5 linked regions of the Homo sapiens genome follow. The protein of the gene in region 1 interacts with the protein of each later gene in a biochemical or structural test. Each region holds a gene or a part of one and is shown on either strand. Other genes may lie near its edges. The genes, in order: PTPRS, LRFN3, LRFN5, LRFN1 and LRFN2.

The links.
Region 2: the proteins of PTPRS (region 1) and LRFN3 interact in a biophysical measurement, tested with the Homo sapiens proteins (one large-scale study listed by IntAct).
Region 3: the proteins of PTPRS (region 1) and LRFN5 interact in a biophysical measurement, tested with the Homo sapiens proteins (one large-scale study listed by IntAct).
Region 4: the proteins of PTPRS (region 1) and LRFN1 interact in a biophysical measurement, tested with the Homo sapiens proteins (one large-scale study listed by IntAct).
Region 5: the proteins of PTPRS (region 1) and LRFN2 interact in a biophysical measurement, tested with the Homo sapiens proteins (one large-scale study listed by IntAct).

What each region holds. Positions count from the first base shown.
Region 1 is NC_000019.10:5,330,812-5,334,328, reverse strand, and holds part of PTPRS (receptor-type tyrosine-protein phosphatase S isoform 1 precursor), read left to right. Parts: intron 1-3,517. UniProt on the Homo sapiens protein: Cell surface receptor that binds to glycosaminoglycans, including chondroitin sulfate proteoglycans and heparan sulfate proteoglycan.
Region 2 is NC_000019.10:35,935,122-35,939,190, forward strand, and holds the start of LRFN3 (leucine-rich repeat and fibronectin type-III domain-containing protein 3 precursor), read left to right. Parts: upstream 1-1,252; 5' UTR 1,253-2,434; intron 2,435-4,069. UniProt on the Homo sapiens protein: Cell adhesion molecule that mediates homophilic cell-cell adhesion in a Ca(2+)-independent manner. Promotes neurite outgrowth in hippocampal neurons.
Region 3 is NC_000014.9:41,900,375-41,903,891, forward strand, and holds part of LRFN5 (leucine-rich repeat and fibronectin type-III domain-containing protein 5 isoform 1 precursor), read left to right. Parts: intron 1-3,517. UniProt on the Homo sapiens protein: Cell adhesion molecule that mediates homophilic cell-cell adhesion in a Ca(2+)-independent manner. Promotes neurite outgrowth in hippocampal neurons.
Region 4 is NC_000019.10:39,314,360-39,317,876, reverse strand, and holds part of LRFN1 (leucine-rich repeat and fibronectin type III domain-containing protein 1 precursor), read left to right. Parts: intron 1-1,740; 5' UTR 1,741-1,795; intron 1,796-2,503; 5' UTR 2,504-2,540; coding exon 2,541-3,517. UniProt on the Homo sapiens protein: Promotes neurite outgrowth in hippocampal neurons. Involved in the regulation and maintenance of excitatory synapses. Induces the clustering of excitatory postsynaptic proteins, including DLG4, DLGAP1, GRIA1 and GRIN1.
Region 5 is NC_000006.12:40,430,354-40,433,870, forward strand, and holds part of LRFN2 (leucine-rich repeat and fibronectin type-III domain-containing protein 2 precursor), read right to left. Parts: intron 2,779-3,517; 5' UTR 2,761-2,778; coding exon 1,361-2,760; intron 1-1,360. UniProt on the Homo sapiens protein: Promotes neurite outgrowth in hippocampal neurons. Enhances the cell surface expression of 2 NMDA receptor subunits GRIN1 and GRIN2A. May play a role in redistributing DLG4 to the cell periphery.

The sequences.
Region 1 (3,517 bases):
ACAACATGGGAGCTACACTGATATGTTGAAGGACCTGCCCAAGAGGGGCTCTCCAGTGTCCACCCGCGCCCCGCTACCCCGCCCTCAGCCCCCCGATGGGGTCCAGCACCAGGGAGATGTCAGGATGACTCAGCCACTGCAAACTGGGGCGTTCCCCTTCACTGGCTGCTTAATCAAGGCCGCCCCACTTCTGCGGCAGGACTGGGCGACTGGCGGGAGCTGAACCACAGGGGGCCTGGATGGTGGACAGGGAGGACACGTGGCTGCCTTGGGAGCTCCAGGCACTCCAGGGACTCCACATGTGGCTCCCAACTTCCAGAGCCCCTGGTGGGCCCGAGTGATCACCAAAGGGGGGAGTTTGGGGGGGATTTGGGGGTTTAACAGCAGTCATTTGATGGGCACTCAGGAAAGTGATCGGTTGACAAGCATGGTGTGCGAGCGAGCATGCATGCATTCATTCGAATATTCACCAGTTCATTAATTCATTCATTCCATCAGGATTGCTGGAAACCTGCTGCTAAGGAACTTGGAAGCCAGAATCTAAGCAGCTGTGGGGCTTGGGCTAGTAATAAAGCTGTTCTGTGCCTCAGTTTCCTGATCTGTAAAATGGGTGCTTTGACATTGCCTCTATCATAAGTGGAGACAGATGAACTGGTGTGGGGGGCACCAAGGACAGAGACTGAGAGTGGCACCTGCTGCTTTGTGGCTGGAGGTGAGGGGGGCGGAAACAAGAAGAGAAGAGTTGACTTTAGCTGGGGAAGACCACACAGGACCCCCCACCCCAAGGAGTTCGAATCGCATTGTGTGTGTGTGTGTGTGTGTGTGACAGGACTCACACTGTTGCTCAGGCTGGAGTGCAGTGATGCCATAATGGCTCACTGCAGTGTCTTAACTCCTGGGCTCAAGCAATCCTCCCACCTCAGCCTCCCAAGTAGCTGGGGACTATAGGCATCCACCAGCACGCCCAGCTGACTTTTGTATTATTATTATTATTATTATTATTATTTATTTATTTTTTTTTTGTAGAGATGGGTTTCACCATATTGCTCAGGCTGGTCTCAAACTCCTGGGTTCAAGCTATCTGCCTGCCTTGGCCTCGGAAAATGCTGGGATTCCAGGTGTGAGCCACCACACCTGGCGAATTGGCATTTTTTATTTATTTTTTATTTTATTTTATTTATTTGAGACAGTCTTGCTCTGTCGCCAGGCTGGAGTGCAACGGCGTGATCTCAGCTCACTGCAATCTCCGCCTCCCGGGTTCAAGTGGTTCTCCTGCCTCAGCCTCCCGAGTAGCTGGGATTACAGGCACCCGCCACCACATCTGGCTAATTTCTGTATTTTTGGTAGAGATGGGGTTTTACCCCATTGGCCAGGCTGGTCTCAAACTCCTGACATCAAGTGATCCGCCTGCCTTGGCCTCCCAAAGTGCCGGGATTACAGGCGTGAGCCACCGCGTCTAACAAATTGCATTTTTTAGATGTGCGGTCAGAGTTCTCTGAAAGCCCCCAGAGCTGGGCTGCCAACATCAGGATCAACAGAAAACCTGGAATGTTGGGAATGCTTCTTGGAACATCTGTCAGGCCAAGGCCCAGAGAGGGAGAGCAACTTGCCCAAGACCACACAGCCATGCCTGCCTGCCTGCTGCTGGGCCTTGCGCAGGAGGATGGACAGGGACCCCTTTCACCAGTCCAAAGGGAGAAACCGAGGCAGGAAGCCATGGCGGGTGTGTGATTCTCAAGCCATAACGCCTGTCAGGGCTGGAGTCTCCACTCCAGCGGGTCGTATGGGCCAAAAAGGCTTCTTCAACCTCCAAGGAAGCCCTGAATGGCTCCAGGGCCAGATCTGTTGGTTTTTCCAAGGAAAAGCAGAAATCTAGATTTTAAGTAAAATTGCCCAATTTTGGCTGGGCATGATGGCTCACGCCTGTAATCCCAGCACTTTGGGAGACCAAGGCAGGCAGATCACCTAAGGTCAGAAGTTTGAGACCAGCCTGGCCAACATGGTGAAACCCCGCCTCTACTAAAAATACAAAAATAATCTGGGCATGGTGGTGCATACCTGTAATCGCAGCTACTTGGGAGGCTGAGACAGGAGAATCGCTTGAACCTGGGAGGCGGAGGTTGCAGTGAGCTGAGATCATGCCACTTGCACTCCAGCCTGGGCGATAGAGTGAGACTCTGTCTAAAAAAAAAAAAAAATTGCCCTATTTTAACATCCTTGGGTTGAAACATCTTAACATGGCACAGTACAGAAATCCAGGGCCACCGTGGACTTTGACCCCTTCCCCAACAATTAAAAGTTGCGTGACTTCTGACACCTCCATTGCCGTCCGCGGGCCTCAGTTTCCAGGCCTGTGAAATGGGTTTAAGACTCCCAGCCACCTCTGCGGTTCTTTAGAGGCACCAGTGTGATAGCTTACAGAGAGTGCTGAGAACAGGGCCTGGGCCAGCGTCCGCGCTCGATAAACGTTGGCTCTGATTATATTAATATTGGTCATAATGATAAACTTGACTTAAATTAAATACTGCGTAGAAGGAAGCCGGCTGTCCCGCGGGGCAGGGCTGCGAATTATCTACTGGCGGCAGGACCTGCTTCTCCATCCCTCGTTCTTTCTGTAGCGCAGTCGTTTGCTCTTGGGGCTGGAGCACCCGGGTTACCAGTATTACTCGTTGAGTGTACTGCTGTGGTTCTCAGCCGGGGTCACTTTTGCTCCCCTGGGCACACTTGGCAACGTCTGGGGACATTTTTGGGTGTCATGTCCAGGGGGGTGCTGCTGGTATGGAGTAGGTGGAAGCCAGAGATGCTGCTCAACTCTGTGTAATGGCCAGGATGACCCCATCCCAGATAATGACCCCACCCTCATGTACACTGTGCTGAGGTTTAGAAACCCTGATTTTGCCAGGCATGGTGGCTCACGTCCATAATCCCAACACTTTGGGAGGTTAAAGCGGGAGGATTGCTTGAGCCTAGGAGTTCAAGATCAGACTGGGCAACACAGTGAGACCTCATCTCTACAAAAAACAAAAAAAAATCAGCCGAGGGTTGGGGTGCACACGTACGGTCCCAGCTACTGGGGAGGCTGAGGTGGGAGGATTGCTTGAGCCTAAGAGTTTGAGGCTGCAGTGAGCTATGATTGCATCACTCCACTCCAGCCTGGGCAACAGAGCAAGGCCTTCTCTTTTTTTTTTTTTTTTTTTTTTAAAAAAAGAAGCCCTGACTTATGCTGAAGACCCAAGACAGCGAGAGAAATCAGGCAGATGGTGCCTTTGTCCCTGAGCGTCCACCCAACACGCTCCCTGACGTCTCGCGGGGCCAGAACGCTTAGATTGCTAATGGGTTCCCTCTGCACATCTGTCCTGGTTCCACTGCCCCATTGATTATTGGAAGTGGGTAATTGCCCCTGTCGGATGAATTCTAGAGAGTGTGAACTGCCGGGGTTTCCGGCAACAGTGCTGGCTTCAACTCCCAGATATCAGCAGGGTGCAGAGAGGCTGCCAGGTCCCAGGACTTTTTCTCT
Region 2 (4,069 bases), about 31 Mb from region 1:
GCAAGACCCTGTCTCAAAAAAAAAAGTATGGTCTTTGAAAAGTCACATTAGCATCACCTGGGTACTCGTTAAAAATGCAAATGTTTGGGTCCCACCTCAGACCCACTGAACCAGAAACTCTGAGGTTGGGACCTGGAGATCTATGGTGCCCCCGGGTGATCCTGGTGGGCTGCACTGCAAGGACACCTGGCCTGGCTCCTGCAAGGCAAGGCATCCCTCTCTGCTTTTCTTTCTTTCTTTCTTTCTTTTAAAGACAGAGTCTCACTCTGTCACCCAGGCTGGAGTGCAATGGCTGGATCTCAGATCACTACAATCTCCACCTCCCGGGTTCAAGCAATTCTCTTGCCTCAGCCTCCCGAGTAGCTGGGATTACGGGCGTCCGCCACCACACCCGGCTAATTTTTGTATTTTTAGTAGAGACGGGGTTTCTCCATGTTGGCCAGGCTGGTCTCCAACGCCTGATCTCAAAAGATCCGCCCGCCTTGGCCTCCCAACGAGCCGGGATTACAGGCGTGAGCCACCGCCCCCGGCTGTCAGTGTGTCTTGAGGTCTTTCCCTAATCCCAGATGGCACAAGTTTTCCCTCTTGCAGGCAGAGAAAGGAGCCTTGGGAAGGAGCCCCTCTGGCCTGAAAGATCAAGCCTATTGCTGGGCATGGCCAGGTAAGGAAACTCCAACCGTGGAAAGGACATTCCAGGGAGGTGGTGCTGAGATAAGGGGGGCAGAAAGAGACAGGTTTGGGGGGCCAGTGGCTCTGGAATGAAGCGCTACACTCAAGGCTAGGAATAGTTACTGAATGCACATACACACATACCATTCTCACAGCCCAGGTGCTGCGTCTTAGAGCGTGTGAGTGTGTATGTGTGTGTCTGTGTGTGCGCGCGCACGCACGTCTCTATCTCTGTTTCTGTCTTTCTCTGACTTGTCCTTATCTCTTGTCTCTCCATCACTCTCTGTGTCTCGCTGTCTCTGTGCATTTCCATGTCTCGAATATGTGTGTGTTTCAATCTGTCTCTCTGCCTCTTTCCATTTTCTCCTCTCTATCCATCAATCTAAGCCTGCCCATCTTTTTGTCTGCCTTTCTGTATCTCCGTTCTTCTCTGTCTCTCTGTCTCAGTCTCTCTGTATCCAGGGATTCTCTTTCCCAGCAGCGCCAGTGCGACTCCATGGGAGGTGGGGCCGGGGCGCGTCTTTGAGAGAAGGGGCGGGTGCCTACGCCTTTAAGCGCGGGTGCGCGCGGAGCCTGCGCCTTTAAGCGCCGGTGCGCGCGCTGCCCTGGGTTGCCGGCGAGGAGGCCGCGGGAGCGCCTGGACCCGGCCCGCCCAGCCCGGCCCCCGCCCGGCCCCCGCCTCGGCCCCGGCGGGGGAGGGGTCTCTGAGCGCGGCCCCTCCCCCCTGCGCCCCCGCCTGCGCTGCGGTGCCCCCATCCCGCGTGTCCCAGTCTGTCTGACCGTCCCTCCGCTCCCAGGCCTCGCCCCACCCGGCCCTGGGGCTGCCCGGTCGCCCCCCTCCCCACCGCAGCCGGTCCCCTCCCTCCCAGTCAGCCTCCGCCGCAGCCCAGGAAGCCAGCCGGGACGCCGCCGCCCCGGACCCCGCGCCCTAACCTCCACCTCGGGGGCCTGCACCCCCAGATTGAATCGGGAATTCCGGAAACCCGAGCCTGGAACCCTGATCTGGGACCAGCACCCCGAGATCCGGCCGTGGAACCCCAAGATCTGGAGCCTGAACCCCAGTATATGGGGCTGGAATCTCAACATCGGTCACTGGGACCTCAATATTTGGAGCCGGAACCCCACAATTTGGAACACAGACCCCAATATTTGGAGCAGAACCCCAAGATTTGACATCTAAAACCTCAAGCCTGGAGCTGAACTCTGAATTCTGGGCCTGGGACCTTGAAATCTGGGACTGGATTTCCAGTACTGTACCCTGGAACCCACTCTTGGGGACCTGAACCCTGGGATTCAGGCCTCAAATTCCAAGATCTGGACTGTGGGATTCCAAGGGGCCTGAACCCGAGTTTGGGCCTGAAGTCCTTGCTGCAGACCTGAGTGCTTAAATCTGGGGCTTGAGACCTCCCAATCTTGACTCAGCACCCCAATATCTGAATGCAGAACCCCGGGATCGGATCTCAGACTCTAAACCCCACCGTTTGGCTGCTTAGCATCCCAAGACTGGACCTGGGAGACCCTGACCCTGAACAACCCAAACTGGACCCGTAAAACTGGACCCTAGAGGCCCAATATTTAGGGGTCTGGAACCCCGAGTATTAAGGTCTGGAGACTCCGTTGCCACAGATTTGAGCCGAGTCAGGACACAGTCCCTCTACAGAAGCCTTGGGGACAGGAAAAGCATGACCAGATGCTCCCTCCAGAGCCCTGACCTCTGACTCCCCTGGAGCTAGGACTCTGCTCCCTGGGGCTGCTTCTAGCTCAGGTAAGGCTGCTGAAACCTCAAGGTGGGGACGGGCTGGGAGGAGCATTGTGGCTGCGGGTTACGGTACCAGGTACCCTTTGACACTCTTGGGGTTTCTCCAGAAAAAAAGACATTCCCCCATGGGTCTGCCTTCAGCTCCTGCTCTGCTCCAAACACTCTCTGGACACTGGCCATCCTTGCCCCTCTCTGACCTTCCCTGCCTCAGTTGATGGGACCTCCAGGTCTCTGACCCCTGCAACCCTTACAGCCTTTCGCTGTCTATCCGGTCCGACCGTCTCCGCCACCTCTCTTGTCCACCACTCCTCTCTCTGGGCTCCTTTCTCCACCTGTCCTCTCAATGGCCATCTCTGTTCCCTTTTTCTCTCTCTGATCATCTTTGTGACACCCCTGTCCACAGGTCCTCTCTCCAGTCGCCTCTGCCTGCTGCTTCTCAGTGACCATCGCTGACATCTGTGTCCACTGTGCCTCTCTCTAATCATCATTCACCAGCTCTCTTGCTCCTTCTCCACCCCTGAATCTAAGCCTAGGTCTGTGACCGTCCCCATCCATCTTTGACATTGCTGTCCACCACTCTTCTCTCCAGCAGCCTCTGTCCATCTCTCCTCTCTAGCTTCCTCTGGCCACCTTTCCCTTTCTCTGGCCATCTCTCCCACTGCTCTTGCCCTCCTCCCACCCCTGACCCTAACTCCCAGTCTGCAACTGTCTGACCATCTCTGGCCACCTCTCCTCTCTCTCTCACTCACTGATGCCCTCTGATCATCTCTGGCCACCTCTTCTCTCTCTCTCACTCATTGATGCCCTCTTGATCATCTCTGGCCACCTCTTCTCTCTTTCTCACTCACTGATGCCCTCTTGATCATCTCTGCCCACCTCTTTTCTCTCGCTCGCTGATGCCCTCTGATCATCTCTGGCCACCTCTTCTCTCTCTCTCACTCACTGATGCCCTCTGATAATCTCTGGCCACCTCTCCTCTCTCACTTGCTGATGCCCTCTGATCATCTCGAACATCTCTGCTGCCTTTCCTCTCTCCGATGACCTCTCCCCGCACCATCCTCCTGAGCAGCTGTCCTGGGCTCCCACTGACTCTGCCATGTCTGTCCTTTTCCTCCTCTCTGACCACCTTGCTGGCTTTGGGCCGTTTCTGACCACGTGTCTCTGACATGGTCATCTCCCCCAGATCTGAGCCCAACCCATGCCCTCCCTTCTCTTTGTCCACTGCTCATCTTCCTGACCATCTGTAACCCCTTCTCTTCTCTGGTCATATCTGACCACTTCTGATCATTGTTGCCACCCTGGCTGCCCCGTCTCCCCATGGCCAGCTTTTACCATCTCTGACCACGTCTAAAGCCCTCTGGTTTTCCTGCCACTCACCCAGACCAGCTGTCATTTCTCTGACCATTTCTTTACTTTTTTCTTTTGGAGAGACAGAGTCACGCTCTGTTGCCCAGGCTGGAGTGTGGTGGCGCAATCATAGCTCACTGCAGCCTCAAATTCTTGGGCTCAAATTGATCCTCCCACCTCAGTGTCCCATGTAGCTAGGACCACAGGTGGGCGCCACCATGCCTAGCTAATTTTTAAAAATTTTTGTATAATAGATACACGGTCTCACTTTGTTGCCCAGGCTGGTCTTGAACT
Region 3 (3,517 bases), on another chromosome or scaffold:
TTATAAATGGAATTTAGACTTTCTTTGGAAGTCTTTGTACTAAGAGATATAGCACAAAATTTTGCAAATGTGATACATATATAAGGCTTTGAATAATAACTTTTTATCTTAAAGTAATTAGTATTACAAAAAATAAGAAAATATCATTAAAAATAAATGACTGTCATATATTATAGAAAACTTCCCTTCATACTTAAGCTACCTTGTTCCTCTTTCTATAAATATTAGCAAGTAAAACAAATCCAAAGACAAATAATAGTTTTAACAAAATTCAGTGGCCATACATCACTCACTTATTAGCCAGCTCCTTGCTACCTTTCTATTATCAGATTTAAGTTACTGTATGACCCCAAGGTAACTATTCTTGATTCTCGGTAAATGATTTGTGCTATAGCAGGCCTATGTCTACCACTGTGAGAAGACCAAACAGTGATGCCCCTACTGAAGACAGTGTGTGACCTGTGTGTTCTTAGCTTTGTCATAGCCTTTCACATTGTCAGTGTGTGAATGAACAGAGGTGGAGAGCGGGCAGAGACCCTTTGTGATTGCAACTCTTCAGCTCCGAGTTTTCCGTAGCCAGTCATACTGAGGTACCTGTTAAGGTGAATTTTTTTCTAAGCATAGAGAGTTAAAACACTTATTTCATTTCCATTATTCAGAATATGCCCCATGCCAATTTTCTTTTTTAGAAGCCTTTAGGAATGTATATAAAAGTTGAGTGGCCTTGAAATATTTTAATATCTAATATATAATACAATTCTTTTATAATATAATCATAAAATTTTAATCACACTAAAATGAATTGAGAGGAAAGGGGAAAGGAATTACGTATAAAATTAATGCTGATAACTCTACGTGGAAATTGACACTTACCTATAAATTTTCCTTGTGTTTGGCCAAGATTTTTATCTTTACAAGGAACACAGTAAAACAATAGTTATGCTGTTCGGCAGTTAAGTAAGAAATAGTTGAGTAGTTTCCATTTATACTGAAAATGCCTTAAATAAAATTTCTTAAGAACTGTTTGCTGTTTTCTGACCAATAAAATATGTATGCATTGTGTGTGTGTGTGTGTGTGTGTGTGTGTGTGTGTAGCTTTGCACAAGAGCTATAGCTTATTCTGTGATTGCTTGCACAGGCCTTTAAGATAATTGCTTCTTGATTTTAATAAATTTAACTTGCGATTAGTCCACATTTAATAACAAGCAAAAGTGTAAACTTTGCAATAAAATCTCTGTTACAGATGAGTACAATTTTTTAGATAATTAATATACAAATTAAAAGCTAATATTGATTATGAATACATAACAACACTGATAAAACTATGGGAAAACACAGGGTTAGGAAAATACATGAAATAAGAGCCAAAGAGAAAAGCAAATTTTATACACATGATGCAAATATGCTTCCAATTTGTTTCCAGGTGAGTGTGATCAATGTAAAATATTTGCTTCTGCAGGAGGAGGTTCCTATGATATTCTTTTCAAGTAAATTTTCTGAAATAAGAGTAATAGAATAAACACATATGTAGGAAACATTTGGCTGTTTTTATAATAATTAAAGCATGTTTTTAACATATATATTTGAACATTATAACAAATTTTAAAAAAGGAGAGCCTTTGGGTCAGCAATGACCTTTAGAAATCATCTCCTTGCTTAGACATCCTAGCTATAAAAGATCAAAATATTTCACAGTTCTTAATTACATTGAGAATAGGGGCAGTAATAAATCTTTTCCCACAATTCATTTAATGTCAGGATTTTTTTTCTTCTCTTAATGTTCAGGGAGCTTGCATTTCTTATTTATCTTTTAGTACTGTTAATAAGACTGTCCACAGATTTTTGCATGATATCCACTCACTCTTAAATGAGGACAATAACCAAAACATCCTAAACCTACTACAACTTGATTATTTTTAGTTTTTGTAACATTTTTACCATATTTAGTCTGTATTATTTGTATTGTTTGATACTCTTGTAATTTTGTGTTTTATGTTTAGGTATTTATGGAATTACTATAGGAGCTATCTATTGATAAGTAAATTAAAAAGTGTCATTTTGGATATTCTATTAAATGCCAGTTTTTATTTGGCTTCATATTATTTAATAATTTTAATATTGCTACATCTTCAGAGCAGACAAACTTCTTAGTTCACAAAATTTTTATTTCCTACTGTTCAAATATAAACCATAATTTTACAGTTTGTTAATATGATTAGTTAATGTGAAACTCTAGTAAATCTTTAAGATATGTCAGCTTACAAAATCATTAACTTGATACTAAATTAAAGTTTGCTATCCTGGAACCATTTATTACTTAAAAACTTAAACTAGTTATTTTGTCCACTGTCATTTTCCTTCTAGGTGTACTGCAACTTTTACTTTTACTACTTTTTGTAACTTGACCTTTGATATAGTATCATAACACCTTTTTTGTGTCAAAGGGAGTATATCACTTGAAATATAAAAAGAGAAAACATGTTGATTTTCAATTTTACCAATATGAGCTCTGCAATGAACCAAATAAAGAAGAATTTAGTAATATATACCATTACATTTTTACAGTGATTTTGCAATGTTTTTCTTAGTATATTCCAGGTAAATTATGATAATAATATCTATATTTCAGTAGCTTTTTAAAAAGTAATTCTTTTTTTACAAATAAGATACACACTGGTCCCTTAACAGTCTTCACATATATGGTGTATTTCTTATTAGCTTTCCAAAATTATTATTTTTGCTAAAATCAATTTCACTATTCAGATTATCAATTATTTTGAAATGTTTTCTTAAATAAAATATCTTTACAGCATTTTACCTAACTTCACATAAAGTTACCAAAAATAACCTTTAATATACTTTAATAACTTTATCACATAAAATTATCTAAAGATATTCTACATCAACATTTTAATATAGAATACTAAATAAATGAATCTCTATTTCATGATTCATTCATGCCATGCATTTTATAATTCCCAAATAAAAAATTGTTAAGATGCAGTTGTTTTTTAATGGAAAAGAGAAAATTACTTGTACTCATGTATATGAAAGCATATATTTCTCAAAAAATTATTTTCCATTTTCATCAAGAATAGACTTCATTAGACATATCTTAAATCCATGAAGACTGAGAACACATATTAGAGGAAAAATATTTTCACAGTTTTATGTTTAAATATTTTTATAAAATGGCTTTTACATTATTTTCTTTCAAAATCATGTTTAATTCAAACATGGAATGCCTGTAAGAGTTATTGTAAGTTTTCCATTTATTTTGTTTTGTGGGTGAAAAACTGATTAGTTAAGGTGAATAATTTACTACCATTAAATGTATTATTAAATATTTGTAAAATTTTAATATCATACACATTTTCTAGCAGAATTTTTAAAATTTGTAAGTAGCATGCTTTAATAACTGCAATTATTATTTGTTTATCTTACCTTGAAATTATATATGTGAAAAACAAAGCAATAGAAAATGCCATTTTACAATGTAGCTTTGACTTTACATAAT
Region 4 (3,517 bases), about 34 Mb from region 1:
AGAAAGCTGGAGAAAATAATAAATTAGTAATAATAATAGTAATAATAATAATGATAATAGCAGCAGCTCACATGTATATAGTGTTTACTTTGTCAGGAACTATTCTAAGCATGTCATAAAATATTATCTCATTAAATCCTCATAGCAACCTTATGAGGTGGGTGCCATTATTATTCCCATTTGACAGATGAGCACACCGAGGCACAGAAAGGGGAAGTCACTTGATTAAAGTCACACAGTGGGGAGGTGAGGTCTGAACCCAGGCAGTAGGGCGGATTCTGTCCTGCAGTGCTGCACCACTCTCCATAAATGTTAGCTATTTCCATTGCTATTATTATTCCCTCCATTTGAGTCCTACCCCAGCTGTCGGAGGCGAGGCTCTGGACTTCTGTTTCATAGACTGGGATTCTGAGCCCTGAAGACCCCACAGCCAAGCAGGGGCAGACTCAGGCTCCTAATTCTGGAGTCCCCCTTTCTAGGCCAGGGTTTCCAGTACATTGTAGAGTAGTGATCTAGAGGGAGTGAAGGACAGATTTGGGGTGAACTCAGAGATGGTAGGACACCCCGATCCGGCCTCTTTTTCCGCCTTCAGCCCGGTCATTGTCTCTCTTACTCTCTGTCTCTTTCCTCCTCTGTCTTTTTCTCTCTAATACTGTCTCTATTTTTCTCTCCATCTCTGTGTCTTTTTTCTGTGTCTCTCTCTTTTCTGTGTCTCATTCTTCACTCTCAGTTTTCTGTCTGTTCACCTTCCTTTCAGACTCATCTTTTTGTCTCTCTGTTTCTCTCCCAATCTGTCTCTCTCTCTTTGCCAGTCCACTTCTCCCTCCCCCTGGTCTCTCCTTGTCTCTCTTCACCTCTGTCTCTGACTTTCCTGGTCTCTGTCCCAGGCCCCCTCCCCACTGGCAGGAAGATCAAAGCCACCTAAGGCCGTAGCCCCAAACACAGATTCCTGGGAGGTAGGCCAGCAGGGGCTAGGGTACAGGGCAGGGTGGGGTGAAAACAGTTTTAGGGACGCCCCCTTCCCATCCTTTCCTCTTCACCCCCCGCCCACCCTGTGTTGTGATGGGAACTGACATGTCGTGGGCTGCAGCCGCCGCAGGGGGAATCCCTGCCGGAAGGTTTTGCCTGGAGCAGAGACATAGCGTGAGTGTGTGAGTGTGTGAGTGTGTGTGTGTGTGTTGTGTGTACCCAAAGATGTGAGCATGAAAGTCTGCCTTGCTTGGGAGCTCAACTGAGCCCAGGATGAAACCAGACCTCAGAGAAGGCCTTCCTGAGGCTGAACTGGAAGACTCTGATGTGTTTTCCTCAGTCCCTCCCACTTTGACACTCTCCCTGCCAATGCCAGAGGCGGGAGGGGGGAAACCCTTAACATTTATTGAGTACTTACTGTATGCCAGGCATGGTCGGTGGTACATGAATGAAGATGGTACAATTATCATCCCAATTTACAGATTAAGAAATTACAGCCTAGCTAGGGGAAATCATTGGCTTGGGGGTCACAGAGCTAGCAAAAGGGGAATCAGGATTTGAACCTGAGTCTGTTTGATTTCAAAGTACTTACTCTCAATAATAGGGCACTGTTCTATGCCTGGTACATATTAAGCACTTGATGATCATGATGATGATTGCTAACATGTAATAAGCACATTTTATATGCCTGGCACTATTCTAAGTATGCTATGTTCATCAATACATTTAATCCTCACAGAAGTAAGGCCTGTTTCTATCTCCCTTTTACAGATGAAGAAACCGAGAATCAGAGAGGTTCAGATACTTGCTGGAGGTCACACAGCTAGTAAGTATCAGAGCTGGGATTTGGAGCTAGGGAGTATGGCTTGGATAGCCAGGGCCTTAAACCATAGTTAACAGTGATTTTTTAGACAATTTAGTGGGTACTGGAGGGCCCAGGTTGGGCCAGGTGTCACCCCTCTGGTTGGGAGATCATGAGAGGTTTGGGAGCTACTACAGGAGGGGCAGAGGTGAGGGTGGGACACGCAAGTAGGGACAGGGGTATTCTATCAACCAGTATAGAGATATTTTTATTTTTATTTATGTTTTAAGATGGAGTCTTGCTCTGTCGCCCAGACTGGATTGCAATGGTGTGATCTCGGCTCACTGCAACCTCCACCTCCCTGGTTCAAGCGATTCTCGTGCTTCAGCCTCCCAAGTAGCTGGGATTACAGGCGCCCACCACCATGCCCAGCTAATTTTTGTATTTTTAGTAGAGACGGGGTTTCACCATGTTGGCCAGGCTGGTCTTGAACTCCTGACCTCAGGTGATCCGCCTGCCTCGGCCTCCCAAAGTGCTGGGATTACAGGCGTGAGCCACTGTGCCCAGCATGGAAGTGTTGTAATCTGTTGTTAATAGCTGATAGTGGCTTCCTCTCACCATCCTATGGAACCCAGCTGTAGGCGGTAGGGGAGGGATCCAGGCCTGACTCGTAGCAGGACATCCCATGGCGGCCAAGTCCCACGCCTGGGTAACCGGCTCCTTCCCCGGCAGGTCTCACCTCCCACCCCTCCTGCCTTCCCACTGCACCATGGCTCCAGGACCCTTCTCCTCGGCCCTCCTCTCGCCGCCGCCCGCTGCCCTGCCCTTTCTGCTGCTGCTCTGGGCGGGGGCATCTCGTGGCCAGCCCTGCCCCGGCCGCTGCATCTGCCAGAACGTGGCGCCCACACTGACAATGCTGTGCGCCAAGACCGGCTTGCTCTTTGTGCCGCCCGCCATCGACCGGCGCGTGGTGGAGCTGCGGCTCACCGACAACTTCATCGCCGCCGTGCGCCGCCGAGACTTCGCCAACATGACCAGCCTGGTGCACCTCACTCTCTCCCGGAACACCATCGGCCAGGTGGCAGCTGGCGCCTTCGCCGACCTGCGTGCCCTCCGGGCCCTGCACCTGGACAGCAACCGCCTGGCGGAGGTGCGCGGCGACCAGCTCCGCGGCCTGGGCAACCTCCGCCACCTGATCCTTGGAAACAACCAGATCCGCCGGGTGGAGTCGGCGGCCTTTGACGCCTTCCTGTCCACCGTGGAGGACCTGGATCTGTCCTACAACAACCTGGAGGCCCTGCCGTGGGAGGCGGTGGGCCAGATGGTGAACCTAAACACCCTCACGCTGGACCACAACCTCATCGACCACATCGCGGAGGGGACCTTCGTGCAGCTTCACAAGCTGGTCCGTCTGGACATGACCTCCAACCGCCTGCATAAACTCCCGCCCGACGGGCTCTTCCTGAGGTCGCAGGGCACCGGGCCCAAGCCGCCCACCCCGCTGACCGTCAGCTTCGGCGGCAACCCCCTGCACTGCAACTGCGAGCTGCTCTGGCTGCGGCGGCTGACCCGCGAGGACGACTTAGAGACCTGCGCCACGCCCGAACACCTCACCGACCGCTACTTCTGGTCCATCCCCGAGGAGGAGTTCCTGTGTGAGCCCCCGCTGATCACACGGCAGGCGGGGGGCCGGGCCCTGGTGGTGGAAGGCCAGGCGGTGAGCCTGCGCTGCCGAGCGGTGGGTGA
Region 5 (3,517 bases), on another chromosome or scaffold:
GAGCTGGAGGAGACCTCCAGGATGGATCAAGTATTTTTGATCTCTCTTGCACCATGGGCCCTTTGGCTGTGTGATGAAACTCATGGGATCCCATCTCCAAACAATCATTTTACATGCATAAAATAAAACACACAGAATTTCAAAGGACACCATACATTCCTTGAGCGGTAAGGTTTTAGGCCATGTCCTTCATGTTTCATATAAGGGAACTCATCTGTGGTCAGCATTTTGGCCCCTGGCCTTCTGTCACTCTGTGACCTTCTTTCCTCTGAATGACTTATGTGATTCTATTGCAGCTTTCCACATTTAACCTCCCTTTCTACCAGACCTAGGAAATGACCCCTTGATTTTCAGAGAACTTTTCAAGGTCAGTACCATTGTCTTCACTTCTAGATGCAGAGACTAAGGCCCAGGGGGTTCAGCACAGGTGAGAGGGCTGATGCTACCTGTAAGACCCAGGGGGCTCACATGATGTGGTCTGACTCAGTCAGCGCTCAATTGGGAAAGGGAAGCTCTTCTCCCTCTAGGGCTCTAAGTAGGCTCTAGGGCTGCTTAGAGGACCCAGCAGAGGTCTCCCAGGGGAAAGAGACTCCCTGACGGTGAAGCCAACCCAGAGAAAAATAGAACTTAGGGAAGGTAAGAAACTGAGAATACAGATTTGTAGGGGACCTTTGATCCAGCTGAACCTGAAGCAGGTTCCTGACTTGTTAATGACATGAGTCAACACACTCTCCCTCCCTTTCTCTCTCTCTTTTTTTTTTAAAAGCCAGTTTGATTCAGTTACCAAAACTGAATAAGTGCATTTAGTGAGTGTCCAAACTAAGTCAGGTATTAATTATCCTTATCTTACAGATGAGAAAACTGAGGGAGGCCAGGAGAATGAAATGACTAGCAAGTGGAAAAGCCATGATTTGAATCTCACTCTTTCTGACCTCAGAGCCTTAACCATGACTGCATATGAGTCCAGGTGAAGGTCAAATGCATGCCTCTTTTGGGGAGTCAGAACCTTCAGCCAAGAGGTCTATTCATTGTCCTTGTATATCCTCCAACTGGGCTTAGAACAGAACATTCATAAGCTCATAGCCATAAGACCACTGACCACAGCCACCCAGCCGGGAGGTGTGGTCTTTCTTTACACATATCTCTCAGGCTGCCCGTGTGGATTCTTTTCTTCTTAGCCTTGTAGTTGATGTTCTTTTTATCTCCTCTTACCTGCACGAATGGCACAGTTTGCCCCAGAATCCCCACAGACACCTTTGGGGAAGAGGGGTATAGGTGGGAGCAGCCCCAAGACCTCCCCATCCCCTCCTCCTTCCCCAGCCAGACACCCTCCCTGCCTTTGCCACAGCCGCTTGCTCACCTGTAAATCAGTACCTCATCGTCAGAGCAGTTGTACTGCAGCTGGTACATCTTCACCCGGGGTGCTGACTTGCTGACAGACCACTTGACCAGGGCCGAGGTGGTGGTCACTTCAGACACAAGCACAGCCCGTTCCGGGGGGCTTTTGGGAGGCTCTCCGCCCCCACTGCCTCCACCTCCCCGGCTGGTCTTGCTGGAGCCAGTGATGTCTGAGAGGCGGGACTTGGGGGGTGCAGTGCGGCTGGTGCTGTTGCTGAGGTGTGGCAGCTGGACGATGGAGACCTCCACCATGGCCGTGGCCTCTCCGGCAGCATTGGCAGCAATGCAGGTGAAGGCACCACTGTCCTGAGATGTGGTGATGAAGATGTCCAGGGTGCCATTGTCATAGACAGCGGTCCTTGAGGAGTTCCCTACCAGGCGGTCATCGGGGGCTACCCAGTGGATAAGGGGGCTGGGGTCCCCAATGGCTTTGCACTTGAGTGTGGCCGCCTGGCCCTCCAGAACCAGCAACTTGTGTGTGTGCTGGGTGATGAGAGGCGGCTCGCACACAAACTCCTCCTCACGCACATGCCAGAAGTAGCGACCCTTGAGGCCCCCTGGGGAGCCACAGGTTTCCAGGTCATCGTCCCGCTCGAGCCTCCGCAGCCAGAGAAGCTCACAATTGCAGTGAAGTGGGTTACCCCCAAAACTAAAGGACAAGGGTGGGGCAAAGGGTGTGGCTGTCAAAGCCGAAGCCTGGGAGCGGGCAAAGATGGGATCAGGGGGCAGCTTCTGCAGCCGATTGGAGGTGAGATCCAGGCGGGCCAGTTTCTGCAGGTCTGCAAAGGTGCCCTCGGCGATGTGATCCAGCAGGTTGTGGTCCAGGCTCAGCTGGTGGAGGTTGACCATGCGTCGCACGGAGTCCCACGGCAGGCCATGGAGGTTGTTGTAGGAGAGGTCCAGATCCTCCAATGTCAGCAGGAAGTCCTCAAAAGCCTCATCTGCGATGCCGCCCAGCTGGTTGTTGTTCACGATAAGGTGCTGCAGGTTGACCAGGCCCCGGAGGGTGTCCTCCCCAAGGCTTGGCAGCCGATTGCTGTCAAGATGCAGGGAGCGGAGGCTCTCGAGGTCCAGAAAGGAAAAGGGCTGGATGTGGCTGATGGTGTTCCTGGACAGGGTCAGGTCCACCAGCCCCGTCATGTTGGCAAAGTCCTGGCGGCTGATGTGGATGATGAAGTTGCCGCCCAGGCGCAGCTCCACTGTCCGCCGGTCAATATCAGGGGGTACAAAGAGCAGCCCCTTGGAGGGGCACAGGGTCCCCAGTGACTCAGACAGATTCTGGCAGACACAGTACTTGGGGCAGGCGTCGACCACGGCAAACGCCATGCCAAACGCTAGCAGGCCACCAAGCAGGGTCTCCATGGTCTGGTCACTCAGCGCCTGGAAGGGAGAAACACAAGCTCAGGGTCAGGAGGCAAATTCCTAATGCACTCACCCAGAGCTTCCTCCCTCACATTAACCCTCACTGCCTTAGGGAGTGGCATAGAATGGCAAGTGCTCAAGCAAGACCTAATCTCTTCCATGAATCCCTCTAATGCAGTTTTACTGTTTCTCTTTTCCTTAGCTTTATCACCTTCTAACACACTATTTAGTTTACTTATTTATGATGTTTATTTATTGTTTCCTGTTTCAGTCCTCTATGGTCAGCTCCAAAGAGGGCAGGTACTTTTGCCTGTTTTACTAATTGCTGTATCCCAATTACCTAGCTCAATGCCTGGAACACAGTAGCTGCTCAATAACTATCTGTTGGATGGATGGATGGATGGATGGGTGGATGGATGGATGGATGGATGGATGAATGCGATACCATATCATTGGCTTATCCAATAATTGAGTTTGAAAGGATATTATGGCTGTTTTTTGAGGCATAATTTTACATTCTTAATTGGTTTAGGCTTAGCATGAAATTAAATTGAACCAGCATTCCTTAAGAATGAGGTTGTAGATAAGAAGAGAGTTGGTGCTGAGAGACTCCAAGGTCAGTGGGGAACTGTTTCACCAAGGAGAATCCACATAGTTTATGAATCTTTGAGAATGTGGGAAGTGAAGAAGGAGGTGTGATGGGAGGCAAAGGAGTGAATTCTGAACCCTTCATAAGCAATTAGCCTCTATCTGGACC